Regions from separate parts of the Homo sapiens genome. Here region 1 is linked to region 2. Evidence: fine-mapped expression QTL. A gene starts in region 2. The other region holds a variant in brackets. All regions are shown on one strand. Distances are between the middles of the regions. Region 1 overlaps EZH1 (enhancer of zeste 1 polycomb repressive complex 2 subunit). Region 2 holds the start of EZH1 (enhancer of zeste 1 polycomb repressive complex 2 subunit).

Region 1 (4,536 bases), 28 kb after region 2:
GTTTATGGTAAGGGCATTATGATTTGCCCGCAATTTGATTATTTCTTGCTTACTCAATTACCTCTAAATGCCCCCCTTACTATATTAAGGGTCATCGTATACTGGCTTTTGAGTGAGTCTGGGCAGAGAACATTTACTCTGCCATTTTTCTGGAGAGTTAACTCCAGCACCATCTTAACAAATCCTTCCCTCCCCTTACTTTCCAACATTTGCCCAACCCAGCATAATTACAATGGTGGACCCACTCTAGTTATCTACCATTCTCTTATCAACCAGACCTATAAAAAACACCCATCCTCCCTTGGCAGACCGTAGGTGAGCTACTGTCAGTACCCAATCTGTATTTCCTCAGTGGAGGCAGTTCCTCGGAGGAACTCTTATCTCTCTTTTCTTAAATAGGTATCGAGAACTAACAGAGATGTCAGACCCCAATGCACTTCCCCCTCAGTGCACACCCAACATCGATGGCCCCAATGCCAAGTCTGTGCAGCGGGAGCAATCTCTGCACTCCTTCCACACACTTTTTTGCCGGCGCTGCTTTAAATACGACTGCTTCCTTCACCGTGAGTGGGGCTACTCTGTTTGAAATGCTCTCCTCTCTTCCATCCCCAGCCACCATTTCCTTCTCTTTGTTCTGGTTTCTCGTATAGAGTTCCTGGCTTCTGTTCTAACGTTTTACAAAGGGCCAGTTCTATTTTCCCTTGCTCAATTATAGTGCAACATGCTTTGCATGATAGGGACAGACTAACTAGCAACTTATCTGTCCCTCAGTACCTCTTAGCTTTGAAAGCATTGTGTTGATGTCAGAAATGACTGAATTTTGTGCACCCTGATGGTAGCCGTTTATATCGAATTCTAACTCCTACAATAGCTCTCTAATTCACTTTTGTTTCTCCCCATCTTGTCAAGTGGATAGACCACTGGCAACAAGACAGTTTTTGTTTTCCAGCTTTTCATGCCACCCCTAATGTATATAAACGCAAGAATAAAGAAATCAAGATTGAACCAGAACCATGTGGCACAGACTGCTTCCTTTTGCTGGTATGTTCTTAAGCTGTTCTGGCATTATTAACTTCATTCTGGGAACACAAGCCACGTGAGCCAGTACACAGCACTCTGGGGGTCATATAGCACAAATAAAACATGGCTTTTGCTCTTAAGGAGCTCCCCAGTTACTGTGGGACCGCTCTTAAGGAACTCCCCAGACATGGTAGCACTATAAAGTTAGTCTGATGGAGTGCAGATTCGAAGATCATTAAAGGCTTGCCTGCTCTAAATATCATCTGCTTAGATTTCAGAGCCTAAAACTGTATTGTTAGAATTGGAGCAAAGTGTATGCTGGGGGGGTGGGTACACACTCTAGTTTCTTTGCTATCTTGTTATAAATGCATATAACTATGAGACGAATAGCACGTGATGATGCTGATGTCTTGTTGTGATCAACCAGATGGACCGTTCCCTGATGGACAGACCTTAAGAAGCAGCATAAATGGTCTGGCATACCTGTGGGGAAGCCATATATTGAGAGCTAGAAGGAAATAGATCAACTGGACTTGCCAAAGACACAGTTGGGCTTTTTACACAATAGGATGAGCCTAGGCGATGAATAAAATACCTTGATAAAATTTCTGCCACCTATTAAAATTATATTATACAACCAGCCAAGTGCTTTTGGAACCATCTTTAGTGGGATAATAGATGGAAAGATGGTAGAGAATGCTGTTGGGCACACATGTGGAAAATGGGCCGTACTGTAAAAGCAAAAGAATAGACGTTATTGGGTTTATTTTTTCCTAATGTGTATTGACTCCTTCCTATGTGCCAAGTATCATAGTAGACCCTTAACATACCTTGTCTTATTTTCATCCTATAACAGTGTCATGAGGTAGAGGAAACTGGATTACAAAAGTTATATATTTTGCCTAAAGTTTGTTGATAAGTCAGCGGTATGGCAGCGATGAAATTCAAGTCAGGGTCTAACTCCACAGATCATGCTTTTAAAATTACTCCATGTTTTTCAGCCAGGCGTCGTAGTGCACACCTATAATCCCAGCACTTTGGGAGGCTGAGGGAGGTGGATCACCTGAGGTCAGGAGTTTGAGACCAGCCTGGTCAACATGGAAAAACCCTGTCTCTACTGAAAATACAAAATTAACCAGGTGTGGTGGCGCACGCCTGTAATCCCAGCTACTCAGGAGGCTGAGACAGGAGAATTGCTTGAACCCAGGAGGTGGAGGCTGCAGTGAGCCGAGATCACGCCACTGTACTCCAGCCTGGGTGAGATAGTGAGACTCCATCTCAAAAAAAAAATAATAATAAAATGAAATTACTTCATCCTTAAAAAAATATATATGCCATGTTATGTCAACATACCAGCATTTATATAAGTCAAAAGGTCATTGCCCTTCTCACAGGAGTCACCTTGATACCCTGTACATGTATTACGAAGATGCTGCCAATGCCTGAAATGTATGCATGTTTAACTTACAGAGATAATGTATGCACAATTTTTCTTTTATTGC[G/A]TTTTAGGTTTGAGTGCATATTAAATATAATGCTGGACTATTTTCCCCCAACTGTTTACTAAGAACATTTTCAATCATGCAGAGTTGAAAGATACCTTCTTCCTGGATTTGATAACATTTTTTTCTGTATCTCCTTTCTCCATAAATTTGCGTATGTATATCTTTTGCTGAACCATTTGACAATAAGTTGCAGACATTGTGATGCTCATTTGGTAAATGTTTCAGCATAAAGACATTCTCTTACATAACCACATTATTACACCTAGGACAATTAATAAAAATTGTATAGTATCCTCTATTACCCATTCTATTAATATATTCAATTTTTTTTTCAGCTGTACCAAGAATAGGTATTTTTGTGTTGTGTTTTGTTTTGTTTTGTTTCCAAACCAGGATCATCCAGTCAGACATCATATTTGGTTATTATGTCTTTTTTTTTTTTTTTTTGAGACAGAGTTTCACTCTTGTTGCCCAGGCTGGAGTGCAATGGTGCAATCTCAGCTCACCACAATCTCCACCTCCCGGGTTCAAACGATTCTCCTGCCTCAGCCTCCCAAGTAGCTGGGATTACAGGCATGCGCCACCACGCCCAGCTAATTTTTGTGTTTTTAGTAGAGACAGGGTTTCTCTGTGTTGGTCAGGCTGGTCTTGAACTCCCAACCTCAGGTGATCAGACTGCCTGGCCTCCCAAAGTACTGGGATTACAGGTGTAATAAGGCGCCCGGCCTTGTTATGTCTTTTTACTCGTTTTTAATCTCAAATAATTCTATCACTTTTAAAATCTTTTTAAAAGTTCCAGGCTGGTTGTCTTGTAGGATGACCCACATCCTGGATTCATCTGTTGTTTTTTCACAGTGTCATTTCTGTGTTCTTCTGTCTCCTCTTTCTTATAACCTAGAAATTAGGTCTGGAAACTTGATTTTATTTATGTTAAAATGTTTGGCCATTATATTAAAATGGTGGCTCACGCCTGTAATCCCAGCAATTTGGGGGGCTGAAGCATGTGGATAGCTTGAGCCTAGGAGTTCGAGACCAGCCTGGGCAACATGGCAAAACCCCATGTCTATAAAAAATACAAAAATTAGCTGGACTGGACTTGGGAGGCTGAGGTGGGAGGATCAGTTGAGCCTAGAAGGTCAAGGCTGCAGTGAGCTGAGATCATGCTACTGTACTCACCTGGGTGACAGGGCAAGACCTCGTCTCAAAAAAATATATATATATATAAATACATATAATCTATTATATATTATATTATATATAAATACATATAATCTATAATATATATTATATATAAATACATATAATCTATGATATATATTATATATAAATACATATAATCTATAATATATAATATATAAATACATATAATCTATTATATATAATATATAAATACATATAATCTATAATATATAAATACATGTAATATATAGTATATAAATACATATATAATATATAAATTATATTTACATAAATTATATATATTTTATATTTATATAAATTATATATAAATATATTTATATAAATTTCATATATTTATATATTATATAAATATATATTTTATATTTATATAAATTATATAATTATATAATATATTTCCATATTATATATTATATATATAATATATAAAAATTATATGTAAATATATATAAATGTTTAAAATAGTATAATTGATACTGTATACTTCATACACAGCATAGGCACATAATATCAGGTTCAGTTAATTTTGAAACTTCTCTTTTGGAATTTCCTTTAGGCCTTACTGTATATTATTCCAAATTCCAGATACCCTTAATGATAGTTAACCTTTATTTTTTTTTCATTTTTATTACTCAAAAAAACTTCATTTTTAAATTGAGCTTTCTGACTCTGCTTGTGCCTTCAACACTTTCACAACAATTTTCTGCTGCTTGCTAAGGAAAGCACACTTGCTCCTGCACCAATACATTCAGCACACACGGATCCACCATAGGCCCTGCTGACATGCTTTTTTGTTTTGGACAATCTCATAGGAACT
Region 2 (4,000 bases):
AAATATGGTAGAGTTCCTATATGTCCATCAAACTTCCTCAATTACAATGATTAAAACCAGGAATAAGATTGATAAAATACTATTAATTAATCTAGAGATTTTATTCTAATTTCATCAAATTATCCCACTGGTGTTCTTTTTCTGGACCAGGATTCAAGCCAGGATCACACATTACATTTAGTTGTCATATCTCCTCAGTCTCCCAATCTGAGATGGTTTCTCACCCCTTGTCTTTCATGATCTTGACACTTGAAGATACTGGCCAGTTATTTTGTAGATTGTCTCTCATTTTGGATTTGTCTGATGTTTCCTCATAATTAAATTCAGCTTATGCAGGCTGGGCATTGTGGCTCATGCCTGTAATCCCAGCACTGGGAGGCAGAGGTGGGGGGATCACCTGAGTCAGCAGTTCGAGACCAGCCTGGACAACATGGTGAAACCCCATCTCTACTAAAATTACAAAATTTGCCGGGTATAGTAGTGCATGCCTGTAAACCCAGCTACTTGGGAGGCTGAGGCAGGAGAATCGCTTGAACCCAGGAGGCAGAGATTGCAGTGAGCCGAGATTGCACCATTGCACTCCAGCCTAGGCAACAAGAGTGAAACTGTCTCAAAACAAACAAACAAACAACACGCACAAAAAATCAGCTTATGCGTGTTCGTCAAGAATACCACAGAAGTGATTTTGTGCGCTTCTCATTGCATCATGTTCAGAGGGACCTGGTAAGAATACCTCTCAGCTGGGGGCAATGGCTCATGCCTGTAATCCCAACACTTTGGGAAATCAAGGTGGGAGGATGGCTTGAACCCTGGAGTTCAAGACCAGCCTAGGCAACACAGCAAGACCCTGTCTCCTTAAAAAGAAGAGGGAGGCCGGGCGTGGTGGCTCATGCCGGTAATCTCAGCACTTTGGGAGGCCGAGGTAGGCAGATCACTTGAGGTCAGGAGTTTGACAGCAGCCTGGCCAATACGGTGAAACCCCATCTCTACTAAAAATACAAAAATTAGCCGGGCGTGGTGGCACGAACCTGTATTCCTGGCTACTTGGGAGGCTGAGGCGGGAGAATTGCTTGAGCCCGGGAGGGAGAGGTTGCAGTGAGCCGAGATCGCGCCACGGCACTCCAGCCTGTGTAAGTAACAAAGCGAGACTCCGTCCAGCCTCGCCCCCCGGCAAAAAAAGAAGAAGAAAACAATACCTCTTATCACTAGTGATGCTAACTTTGATCACTTAGTTAAGGTGGTGTCTGACAGATTCTTATCTGTAAAGTTGCTATTTTTTTCCCTTTGTAACTAGCAGGTGTCTTGTGGGGATTTATTTCGATACAAGGCTATAATTTTGATTCTAAGTGACTAGAAAACTATGAACAGAAATAGGGAGATCAGACATAAATAAAGGGCTTAGAACCCATAGACCGGTGTCTGGAGAACTGGTAGGGGTGAAGCATCGGTATGAAGGTGATCTGGGTTGGCTTCAAACGCTGAAGTGAGATGTGGCTTGTCACCAGCGCGTGGGGATGGCAAATCCGCTGAATAGGGTCTTCAGGAAGATATTAGTGGCTCTGCGAAGGTTTCCCCAGAGCCCTTCCCCTCCCCTGCCAGCGCCGCTTTGGAAGCCGTCTGGGAGGCTGCACCCGCCAGGACTCCTGAGTGCGGGGTTTTGGCGGCAAATGACAGTAGTGCGTCCGCGCGGCACGGGTAAGTCAATGCGCACGCGCCGACAGGAGGCGCGGGGCGGGGCACGGCGCAGGGGTGGGGCCGCGGCGCGCATGCGTCCTAGCAGCGGGACCCGCGGCTCGGGATGGAGGGTGAGTGAGTAAACAAGCCTGGGCCGGGCGGTGGGGCCGGGCCTCCTCCCCTCGCCGCCCTGGGCCTGAGGGAGGGAGAGGCGGAGGGATCAGGAAATTGGAAGGAATCCGAGGGACACACTGCCTGCCTGGCCGGGGGTAGCAGGCGCCCCTCCTCATTCCGAGGGTGGGGGAATGGGGGCGACGGGGCGAGAGAGACCCAGGCGAGGACAGCGTCTGGGGCTGCGAGGGCTGTGTGCCCGGGAGGAGGAGCGGCGGGGGCGGGCTCGGGGACGGGGAATCCCGTTGGATGGCGGTGTGGGCCGGTGGGCGGGAGCCCCAGCGCCCAAAGGGCGCGGGAGGGCGGTGGCACCTGCGGGGGCCTTTAGCGAGGTGGACTCTGGGGACCTGGAGCTGTGCTTGGGGAGGGCTAGAGACCGGGGCTGATCTTGCGATGGCTTTCGGGGATGTTGAGGAGGGGTAGCAGTAAAAACAAGGCCGGGACTAGGGTGAGGTGAGTAAGGCTCCCAAGGCACAAAGTGTAAAGGAGCACTGACTCAGGGTCGCGCAAGTGCAGTGAGCGCCTCCTCACGTGCGTCCTGGGTGCCTCGGTCGCCTCACCCCAGGCCTGGCCCTGAGCAAGAATCTCCTTCACTCCAGACTTTTGGTCTCACGCCAATGATCGCTCACCCCCACCATTCAACCGAGGATCAAATGATATAAATAAAAGTGCCTTGAAGCACAGACAAGGTGTTGTATTTGGGACATGCCTGTTAGGAAATGTGGGACAAACTTTTATTTCAATAAAAAGTGACTACTGAGGAATTGTTTCTTGAGCAGGGAAGGGAAGGGATACCTGAAGGATGTTAGTGCCCCCCGTGGAATGTGAAGGAATATGGAGGGTGAAATACAGGGTTGTATGTGATGTAGCCCAGGCCGATAGGAACCTGACGCTTGGCAGGGGAGGATGAAAGCAAAGGAGCTCAGGTACACTAACAATTAGGTGGGTGCAAGGATGGCAATGAAAACGCGAGTCTCCTCCACGTTTGCTGCCATACTGCCGCTGAATAAAAAAATTCCCACACCCCATGTTTTTTAAATTTAGGAAACTGATATTGAAGGAGGTTTCCAGCCTGAGAAGGTGCTAACCCTATTAGAGGTTTCTGTGAAAGCTTGTCTATTTTAAGTCTTGGAATCCCCAGATATGCCACTGATAAAAGAGATTACTTACATAGGAGAGAGTGTGTGTTAGGAGATAAGTACTTTAGACTGGGCTCGGTGGCTCATATCTGAAATCCCAGCATTCGGGAGGCCCAGGCAGGAGAATAGCTTGAGCCCAGGAGTTTGGGACCAGCTCAGGCAACAATAGCGAGACCTCATCTCTACAAAAAAAAAATAGCCAGATGTGGTGGCCTTCTCCTATAGTCCCAGCTGCTTGGGAGGCTGAAGCAGGAGTATTGCTTGAGACTGGGAGGTCAAGGTTGCAATGAGCTCTGATCCTGCCACTGCACTCCAGTCTGGGTGACAGCACCTGAGACCCTGTCTCAAGAAAAAAAAAAAAAGCCTGGCACGGTGGCTCATGCCTGTAATCCCAACACTTTGGGAGGCTGAGGTGGACCGTTCACTCGAGCCCAGGAGTTTGAGACCAGCCTGGGCAACATGGGACAACTCCATCTCTACTAAAAATACAAAAATTAATCAGGTGTGGTGGCACACGCCTGTAGTCCCAGCTACTCGGGAGGGCTGAGGCATTAGAATCGCTTGAACCGGGAGGTGGAGGTTGCAGTGAGCCGAGATTGCACCACTGCACATCAACCTGGGCAACAGAGTGAGATTCTGTCAAAAAAAAAAAAAAAAAAAGGAGGCCTGGCACAGTGGCTCAGGCCTGTAATCCCAGCACTTTGGGAGGCCAAGGCAGGCGGATCACTTGAGGTCAAGAGTCCGAGAGCTGCCTGGGCAACATGGCGAAACTCCTTCTCTACAAAAATACAAGAATTAGCTGGGCGTGGTGGTGGGTGCCTGTAATCCCAGCTATTCAGGGGGTTGAGGCACGAGAATCGCTTGAACCTGGGAGGTGGAAGTTGCAGTGAGCCGACATGCACCACTGCATTGCAGCATGGGTGACAGAGCAAGACTCCATCTCAAAAAAGAAAAAAAAAAGGGAGAGAGAAGTACTTAAAAACGCACATACATAATAGGAGAAAGGACTATCTATA

What was found. PIP is the estimated chance that this variant, and not a neighbour inherited with it, causes the effect. A credible set is the group of variants that fine-mapping cannot tell apart.
Region 1: its variant is the best candidate, but not a certain one, in a credible set for the expression of EZH1 in whole blood (TOPMed, PIP 0.55).

Annotation. Positions count from the first base shown.
Region 1 is chr17:42,714,481-42,719,016 of GRCh38, reverse strand. EZH1 (enhancer of zeste 1 polycomb repressive complex 2 subunit) reads left to right here. Exons shown (of 21, transcript NM_001991.5): 9 at 400-563; 10 at 950-1,041. It also overlaps the pseudogene RPL34P30. Among named protein-coding and RNA genes, the nearest start is that of MIR6780A, 8.6 kb to the right of the region's middle. The variant G/A (reference allele first, on the strand shown) is at 2,523.
Region 2 is chr17:42,742,816-42,746,815 of GRCh38, reverse strand. It overlaps EZH1 (enhancer of zeste 1 polycomb repressive complex 2 subunit), which reads left to right and starts at 1,776. Exons shown (of 21, transcript NM_001991.5): 1 at 1,776-1,805. RefSeq lists a silencer at 1,619-2,198.